2 linked regions of the Homo sapiens genome follow. The protein of the gene in region 2 purifies or fractionates together with the protein of the main gene of each other region. This does not show direct contact. Each region holds a gene or a part of one and is shown on either strand. Other genes may lie near its edges.

Region 1 (3,748 bases), on a different chromosome or scaffold from region 2:
AATATGGGTGGGGGGAAGTGGCTGGGGATACAGATCCAACAAGATTGGGCATGAGTTGATCATTGTTAAAGCACAGGATGTATACATGTGAGTTTGTAATATTATTTTGTCTCATTTTTGGCATATGTTTAAAATTCTCCATAGCAAAATTACTTGCGGGTTTTGGTTTTGTATTGTATTGTTAAAAAGAACAAATAAAGCCCAAGGCCCAGGAGTCCACAAAGAAAAAGAGAGGGAAAAAAGGAGAGCAGGCTTGGCTTCTCGCTCACCTGCACATAGCTCCCCACGCTCTCCTGGTAGATCATAAAGGAAAGCAGGCTGCCCTGGGTGAGCTCCCCATCCTGCATCTGCTGCAGCCCACAGCTCAGCATCAGCATCTGCACCCCCAAGTGCAGCACCTGGAAGAGGAGAAGAAAGAGATGAGGCTGGGAATCTTCCCATTCTTTCCCCCTCTCTGCCTCTATGAGACTGAGCTGCAAAGGCCTCTAGAACCAGCTGTAGTTTCCTCTTCCCTTGCCCTCCCCCTTTCCTGGGCTCCTTTCACAACCACTCTGGTATCTTACCCTCCTTACGAGCAGGTACAAGGCGCGTTCCAGGTCTCTCCGCCAATACAGCTGCCGACATTGTTCAAGGGCCTCTTTATAGCGACAGACTTCATGCTCCTCGGCCCCAAAACTGCGAACGGTCTGCAGCCCTCCAACGGCTTCCCGCACCACCTGCCCCGCCCTGGCCACTGCATCCTGGATCTCCCGAAGCACTTCCTGGAAAAGAGGGCCAGCAAACACCAGGGCTGATGTGCAAAGACAGCAGGCCCCCACATCTTACTCCAGCCAGTGAGATGCTCCCTAGTCTACCTAAAAATACCAAACTGTTTCTCTCCCTCTTCCTTACTCTTCTTTCCAGAAGGAATAAGAGTGAAGGAGCAAGGGAACAAAATATTATTGAGCTCTCAGTGTTAGGTAGTATAGGAGATACATGCAATTTTTTTAACCTTCATTTGAGGTAATTTTCCCATCCCCAGTGTCTGAATCAGGAAAGAAGGGTAGTTTTCCCAAGGAGCCACAGATAGTTAAGAAAGGTGGAGATGTAATTCCAAATGGATCAGAGGCCTAAACATAAGAGCTAACACTATAAAACTCCTAGGAAAATGTAGAAGAAAAGCCTCATGCCACTAGATTTGGCAGTGATTTCTTGGATATAACACCAAACGCACAGGCAACAAAAAATAGATAAATCAGACTTCATCAGAATTTAAAACGTTTGTGCATCAAAGAACTCTAGCAACAGAGTGAAAAAGCAACCATGAAATACAAGAAAATATTTGTGAATCATATATCTGATAGGAAATTAATAGGCAAAACATATAGTGAACTCCCACAACTTAAAAAAAAATCAGAAAATGGGCAAAGAACTTGCAGACATTCTTTCAAGAAAGAAACATAAGTGGCCAAAATCACACGAAAAGATGCTCAATATTTACTAATCATTAGGGAAATGCAAATCAAAACCACAATGAGATAATCCTAATCACCTAATCACCATTAGAATGGCTATTAAAAAAAAAGACAACAGAAAGTGGTGTTGATGAGGATGTGGAGAAATTGGAAACCTTATGCACTGCTGGTGGGAATTTAAAATGGTGCTGCCGCTATGGAAAACTGTATGGTGGTTTGATACGATCTGGCTGTGTCCCTACCCATATCTGATCTTGAATTCCCATGTGTTGTGGGAGGGACTGGGTAGGAGGTAATTGAATCATGAGGGCAAGTCTTTCCCATGCTGTTCTTGTGATATTGAATAAGTCTCACGAGATATAATGGTTTTAAAAAGGGGAATTCCCCTGCACAAGCTGTCTTTTCTCTTGTCTGCTGCCATGTGAAATGTGTCTTTCACCTTCCGCCATGATTTGAGGTCTTCCCAGCCACATGGAACTGTAAGTCCAATAAACCTCTTTCTTTTGTAAATTGCCCAATCTTGGGTATGTCTTTATCAGCAGCGTAAAAATGGACTAATACATGGTTCCTCAAAAATTGTTAAATAGAATTGCCATATGATCCAGCAGCTCCACTTCTAAGTATATACCCAAAAGAACCAAAAGCAGGGTTTCAAACAGGTGTACACTCATGTCCACAGCAGCATAATTCACAACAGCCAAAAGGTGGAAACAACGCAAATGTCCATTGACAGATGAATGGATAATCAAAATGTGATATATGCACACAACAGAATATTATTCAGCCTTAAAAGGGAGGAAATTCTAACACATGCTACAATATGGATGAGGCCTGAAGACATTACGCTAAGTAAAATATGCCAGTCACAAAAAGACAAATACTGTATGGTTCCACTTACGTACCGCACCGGGAGTCATCACAATTCATGGAGACAGAAGGTACAATGGAGGTTGCCAGCGGCCAGGGGTTGGGGGTAGTAGGCAGTTACTATTTAGTGGGTACAGAGTTTCATTTTAGGAAGATGAAAAAAGTTCTGGAGATGGATGGTGATGATGGTTACCCAATAACAATGTGGGTTTCCTAAATGTCACTGAACTGTACACTTCAAATGGTTGAAATGGTAAATTTTATGTTATGTATGTTTTACCACAATATAAGAGAAAAAGAGAAGGTGGAGCTGACATTCAGACTTAGGACTTCCTGATGACGCCTCCTTTCCCTATGCTGCATCCAGACTTCTTCTGCTGATTTTAAAGGGAAAATCTCCCTGCCTAAAAGCCTCTAAGAAACCATTTTTAATCTTCGCAGTGGGGGCGGGGGATGTACAGACTCCTTTGAGAAGCTAATGAAAAGTTATCATCGCCTATCATCTCCCCTTCCTATTCCCTCCCCCATACCTTCACATACACTTTACATTTTTGTTTACAGTTCTGGAGAATCATGAATCTTCTGAAGTCAAATATCCATTGTTGGATGGCTGGACAAACAAAATGTAGTATATACTACAATATACCTTCTCCCCTAATGGCTGAGAAGAGAACATCTCTCTCTAGGGGATCCTCTAGCCACAAATGTGGAAGCCTCCTCACCTGTCAGTTTTATTCTCCCTTTGGGGTTCCCTTACATGCACGCTCACCTGATGGCGGGTGTTGTACACCTTCTCCGCTGCTATTGTGAAGGGCATGTGCAGCAGAGAAAGGAGGGTGAGTCGAGGCGATATGCTGAGCATGAAGCCATACAGCCCCACCACTTTCACCAGGCTTCGCAAGAGCACATTGGCATTTAAAGGAAGCCAGTTACTCATCAGGGTGGTATCCGAGCTCAGCCGTGAGTTCAGCTCCCCTAAGAAGGACAGAGCAGGTGAGGAAAAAGGAAACCATGTGTACTGCAGGGCCCCCAGAAACTCCCTCCTGACCGTTCCCTCTGACACAGCCCCCTCCTCTGAACATCCTCCTTCACTTGCAGAGGGACAGTGGAGGCTGCTTCTCCACCCTGTCCCAAACAAGAGAAAAGCATCCCCAAGTCCTGGCATACGGGTGAAGGCAGGAGGAGAGGCTGTGGGTGGAAGGTCACTGAGGGGCAAGGGATGTCCATGGGAATCTCAGACCTGGACTCCAGGCCCCACCTGTCTTAGTCTCCTGGAAGAAACCGAGGTCCTGGCGCAGCAGGGAGGAGAAAAGCTGCTCCCGGATCCGCAAGTTGATTCGAGACATGGTGTAGGTGAAGCAGCCTCCTCGGCAGCCTGCAGACAGTGAGCTGTGGGGTAGGAGAATAAGAGGGGAGGGAGATGCAGA
Region 2 (3,748 bases):
TCACTTCAATCACTTAACTCATCTGAACGATGTCATTGTTTCACGAATGCTAAGTGCTCCTGTGGCTTGAGAGGGAATCCAATGCAAGGAATTCAAGGGAAGCATCTCAAACCTTGGCCAGGCAGTGGAAGTGCTTGGTAAATGCAGAGTCCTCCTGGGTGCAAGGGTGCTACACATCACTGGGCGAGCGCGCTCTCTGGGCGAGACTGGACGGGATGCAGCCGCAGCAAATGAGACAGAGCGCTTTCTGGATCTCTTGGTTTCTGAAAGCATATATGACAGGGTTGATGATGGAATTGTAGGTGGCGGGCAGGAGGGTGGCGTAGGTATAGATGGAGGGGTAGGTGTAATCCGCTATCAAGGAATAGAGGGTGAAAGGCATCCAGCAAGCAGCAAACGTCCCCAGGATGATAGCCAGGGTGGAGACCCCTTTCCGGGTGGTCACATAGTGCGACGTGGCCAGGAAGTGGTGCTGCAGGGCTATCTGATGGGCGTGCCTCATCACAATCTTACAGATCTGGATGTAGAGCTGAAGCATGAGCGCAAACATGAAGAGGAAGGACACCGAGAGGATGGCCGCGTTGTTCTTGGTGAGCGGTCTGACCACGCTGCAGGTGGACTCGTCTCGGAGGCAGTTCCAGCCCATGACGGGCAGCAGCCCCAGGCAGATGGAGGTCCCCCAGAGCATGACGAGCATGACATAGGTAAACGTGACCGTCCTCTCCGAATGGTACGTCAGAGCGTAGTACAGTGAGAGGTAGCGGTCAACAGTGATAGCCAGCAAGCTGCAGACAGAGGCAGAGAAAGAGGCGACAATGAGGCCGATCGTGACCAGCTTGGTGGCTTCTGACTGAAGCAGGTAGGCAAAAACAAAATTGGTGATGAGTCCAATGCCGGCCAGCAGGTCTGCAAGAGCCAGGCTGCCTATTAGCAGGAACATGGGTGCTCGCAGGCTGGGGTTGTGGAAGATGATAAGGACCACAATGGCATTTTCACAGGAGATGAGGGTTCCCGAGGTACACAAGACAATGTCCCAGGGGTTGACTACGAGCTCAGGCTCTGGCTCTACGGCAGGAACCCGGGAGGAGACAGCAGCCGAGATGTTCTCCGCAGCAGCGGCATCTAAATAATCCCGAGGCAGCCCGCTTAAATTGACCTTCAGGTCTTCATTCATTTTAACCCCTGTCCTCTTCAACGAAAAGACAGGCTTTTTAATGTTTAAATACAGCAGGGTGACAATCCAAGATCATGCAAAAAACACACAGACAAACAGAAAGCCAGCCCCTGCTCAGATACCAGTACCAAATGCCACAAGCTTCGGGAATGAGGAACTGTTGGGAAATGAAACAAAAGCCAAAGTCTCTGTGGTTTAAACCCCACAACAAAAATGCCGTTTGGCATTGGGGAAAACACAGGGTAGGACTTCAAAACACCAGCGTGAGCGAGGCAGGCACACACGGACTCGCGGCGGTCTGTTTGCAACAGCGCTGGGAATGCACATTGGAAAATCACATCTTGCATGCTGAAAACGAACAACTGTTTGACATCTGGGCTGCTGCCGAGAAAACCACGCGGCAGCGGCAGGTCTCGAGCCAGGGGCCGCCATCCTCGATGGAATATTTAAATCGCCTATTTCCATCGAACTCCCACCCTCCAAACGCATCCCCCGCGCGCGTGCACATCCTCAAACGCACCCCCGACCGGAACAAAGAGGGGCTCCAGACTCCCCCCGTGCGCACGGGGCAGTCGGGAGGGCCACGAGAGGGAGGTGTGTGCAATGGAAGTACCGAGACAGACAGACAGACAGATGCCCATGCACTGCTGCCGATTCCCTGGCGGCGGGGACGGGAGTCGGACGCGAGGGGGACAGACAGGGTGCGGGGACAGGCGGCCCGCGGGGGCGGGGGGGTCATCGAGGGGGTCACCTTGGCTCGCCCAGGCCGAGGGGGCTCCTCCGGTGCTTCCGAAGCGCGTGGGCTACTCGTGTCGCATGTCGGCGCAGTTGCCCGCTGTGGCAAGGGGGGGGCGGCCGGGCTCCGGAGCGGGCCGGGAGGGCGCGGGGCGCGCACTCCGCGGCAGGTGAGCGGCGCGGCTGCAGGTGAGCAGCAGCCTCGGCTCGCGCGCCCAGCTTTCCCCGCCGCGCCCGCCCGGCCCACACGCTCCCCGCGCGCGCGCCGCCCCCGCCCCGCGCGCGCCCGGCCGCCCGCCCGCCCGCGGGATCCCCGCGAGGCCGCGCGCCCCCACGGGTCAGGGCTGCTCTAGGGTGCGGGCAGGCGAGGGCGGCCCAGGGGCGCGGGGCGAGGGGCGAAGGAGCCAGGAGGCTGAGAACTGCATGGTAGCCCTGCCTGCCTGCCGCGCTGCGCGCCCCACCCCAGCCGGCGGCCCCGGGCTTGCACCGGGCGGGGCAGGGGAGCGCTGCCTGGAGCCCTGTGACCTATTTCGTTCCTGTGGTTTCCCTGGGGAGCTCCAAGTCTCTACAGTCCTGGCTTTTCCACGCCTTTACCTAAACCACTACATTCAGGGCCAAAAGAATTGCTTAGGATGATATTCACGATCAGCAGCAGGGATGCGGGGTGGACAGGTTAGGGAAGCAGATCTTTAAAACAACAAAATGCCCCGCACGCTCTTTTAGAATTGCCCATGGTCCTGGACCTGGTTCATTATCACTGTTCCCCAGGAACATTTGCTTGACTGGATAGATGCTGCTGCTCTGTGGATCATCATTATCATCACCAAATTGCACTTATTAAGCGCTCTTTGAGCTGTGTTTTCAAATGGAAATCATTTACTGAGTTCTTGTAGAAGCTTCCTGCAGACATTGGCCAAACCCCAATTCATTTAGATACTGAAGTGGCACTATTAATTTATTTTTTCATTTTGCCACATCAATGGATTCTAAGATGAAGAACCTGATAGCTGTCTGCTTTTATGATCCCATGCCTCCTCTGGATATAAAAACCAGAGCACCTCATAGATCTTAAGTTCCAAGATGATCCTCCAGTTTAAAGATGGGATAAGGAAAAAGTGTGATAGTCTTGTCTTGCCCTGTCAGAGGTGAAGGTTTTCCCACTGCTTTTCTTCCACTTGCCCAGGGGCTCTTGTATGAATGGAGATGGTCTGCAGGCAAGGGACCCTACAGGGGCATCATCAGCTGACCAGCCTGCCTTCCCCTGGTGCTCACGTCTTCTCTACCCCAGCCCAACAGATTCGGAGCCTCAATCACCCTTGACTTTCTTCCCGCTTCTCCTTCCCTTCTTCCATCAATCAGTTTCTGGCTCTGCAAGGTCACTCCAGCTCTCCCTGCATGCCACTTCTCATCATCCTCAGCTCCCTGGTTGAGGCCCTCATCCCCTCTCACCTGCATTTCTGGTACCCACCTGCCTCTCCCTTTCCCAACCTCCTCGATTTGGCACATCTATTCCATGATGTCCAAGACCTCCTGCTACCTCCAGAATAGTCTGAACTTTTTACCTTGACAGATTCTGCTCAGTAGTTCTTGGGGTGGGCCTACCTTCTGCATTTGCAAGCCTCTTCCCCAGTGATGCTGCTGCTGCTGCTGGTTGACAGATCACACTTTGAGAAGCAAGGTTCTATGGAGTTTTCAGAGTGGCTTGTTCATGGTGGGGAGGCATCAGACTCGTGTGTGTCCCAAGAACCGGGCTAAGGGCTGGGCATAGAAATTCAGTAAGACACGGTCTCCAGTCTGGTAGTGACACACACACAAATCAACAATAATGCCAGGCAGCAA

The links. The genes of interacting proteins can lie anywhere in the genome.
Region 1: the proteins of GPR12 (region 2) and TAP2 purify together in Homo sapiens (co-immunoprecipitation; 2 studies listed by BioGRID and IntAct, with this or other methods). This does not show direct contact.

Annotation. Positions count from the first base shown.
Region 1 is NC_000006.12:32,832,064-32,835,811, forward strand, and holds part of TAP2 (antigen peptide transporter 2), read right to left. Parts: intron 3,711-3,748; coding exon 3,580-3,710; intron 3,297-3,579; coding exon 3,091-3,296; intron 762-3,090; coding exon 564-761; intron 399-563; coding exon 270-398; intron 1-269. UniProt on the Homo sapiens protein: ABC transporter associated with antigen processing. In complex with TAP1 mediates unidirectional translocation of peptide antigens from cytosol to endoplasmic reticulum (ER) for loading onto MHC class I (MHCI) molecules.
Region 2 is NC_000013.11:26,758,654-26,762,401, forward strand, and holds the start of GPR12 (G-protein coupled receptor 12), read right to left. Parts: upstream 2,134-3,748; 5' UTR 1,926-2,133; intron 1,190-1,925; 5' UTR 1,175-1,189; coding exon 170-1,174; 3' UTR 1-169. UniProt on the Homo sapiens protein: Promotes neurite outgrowth and blocks myelin inhibition in neurons. Receptor with constitutive G(s) signaling activity that stimulates cyclic AMP production.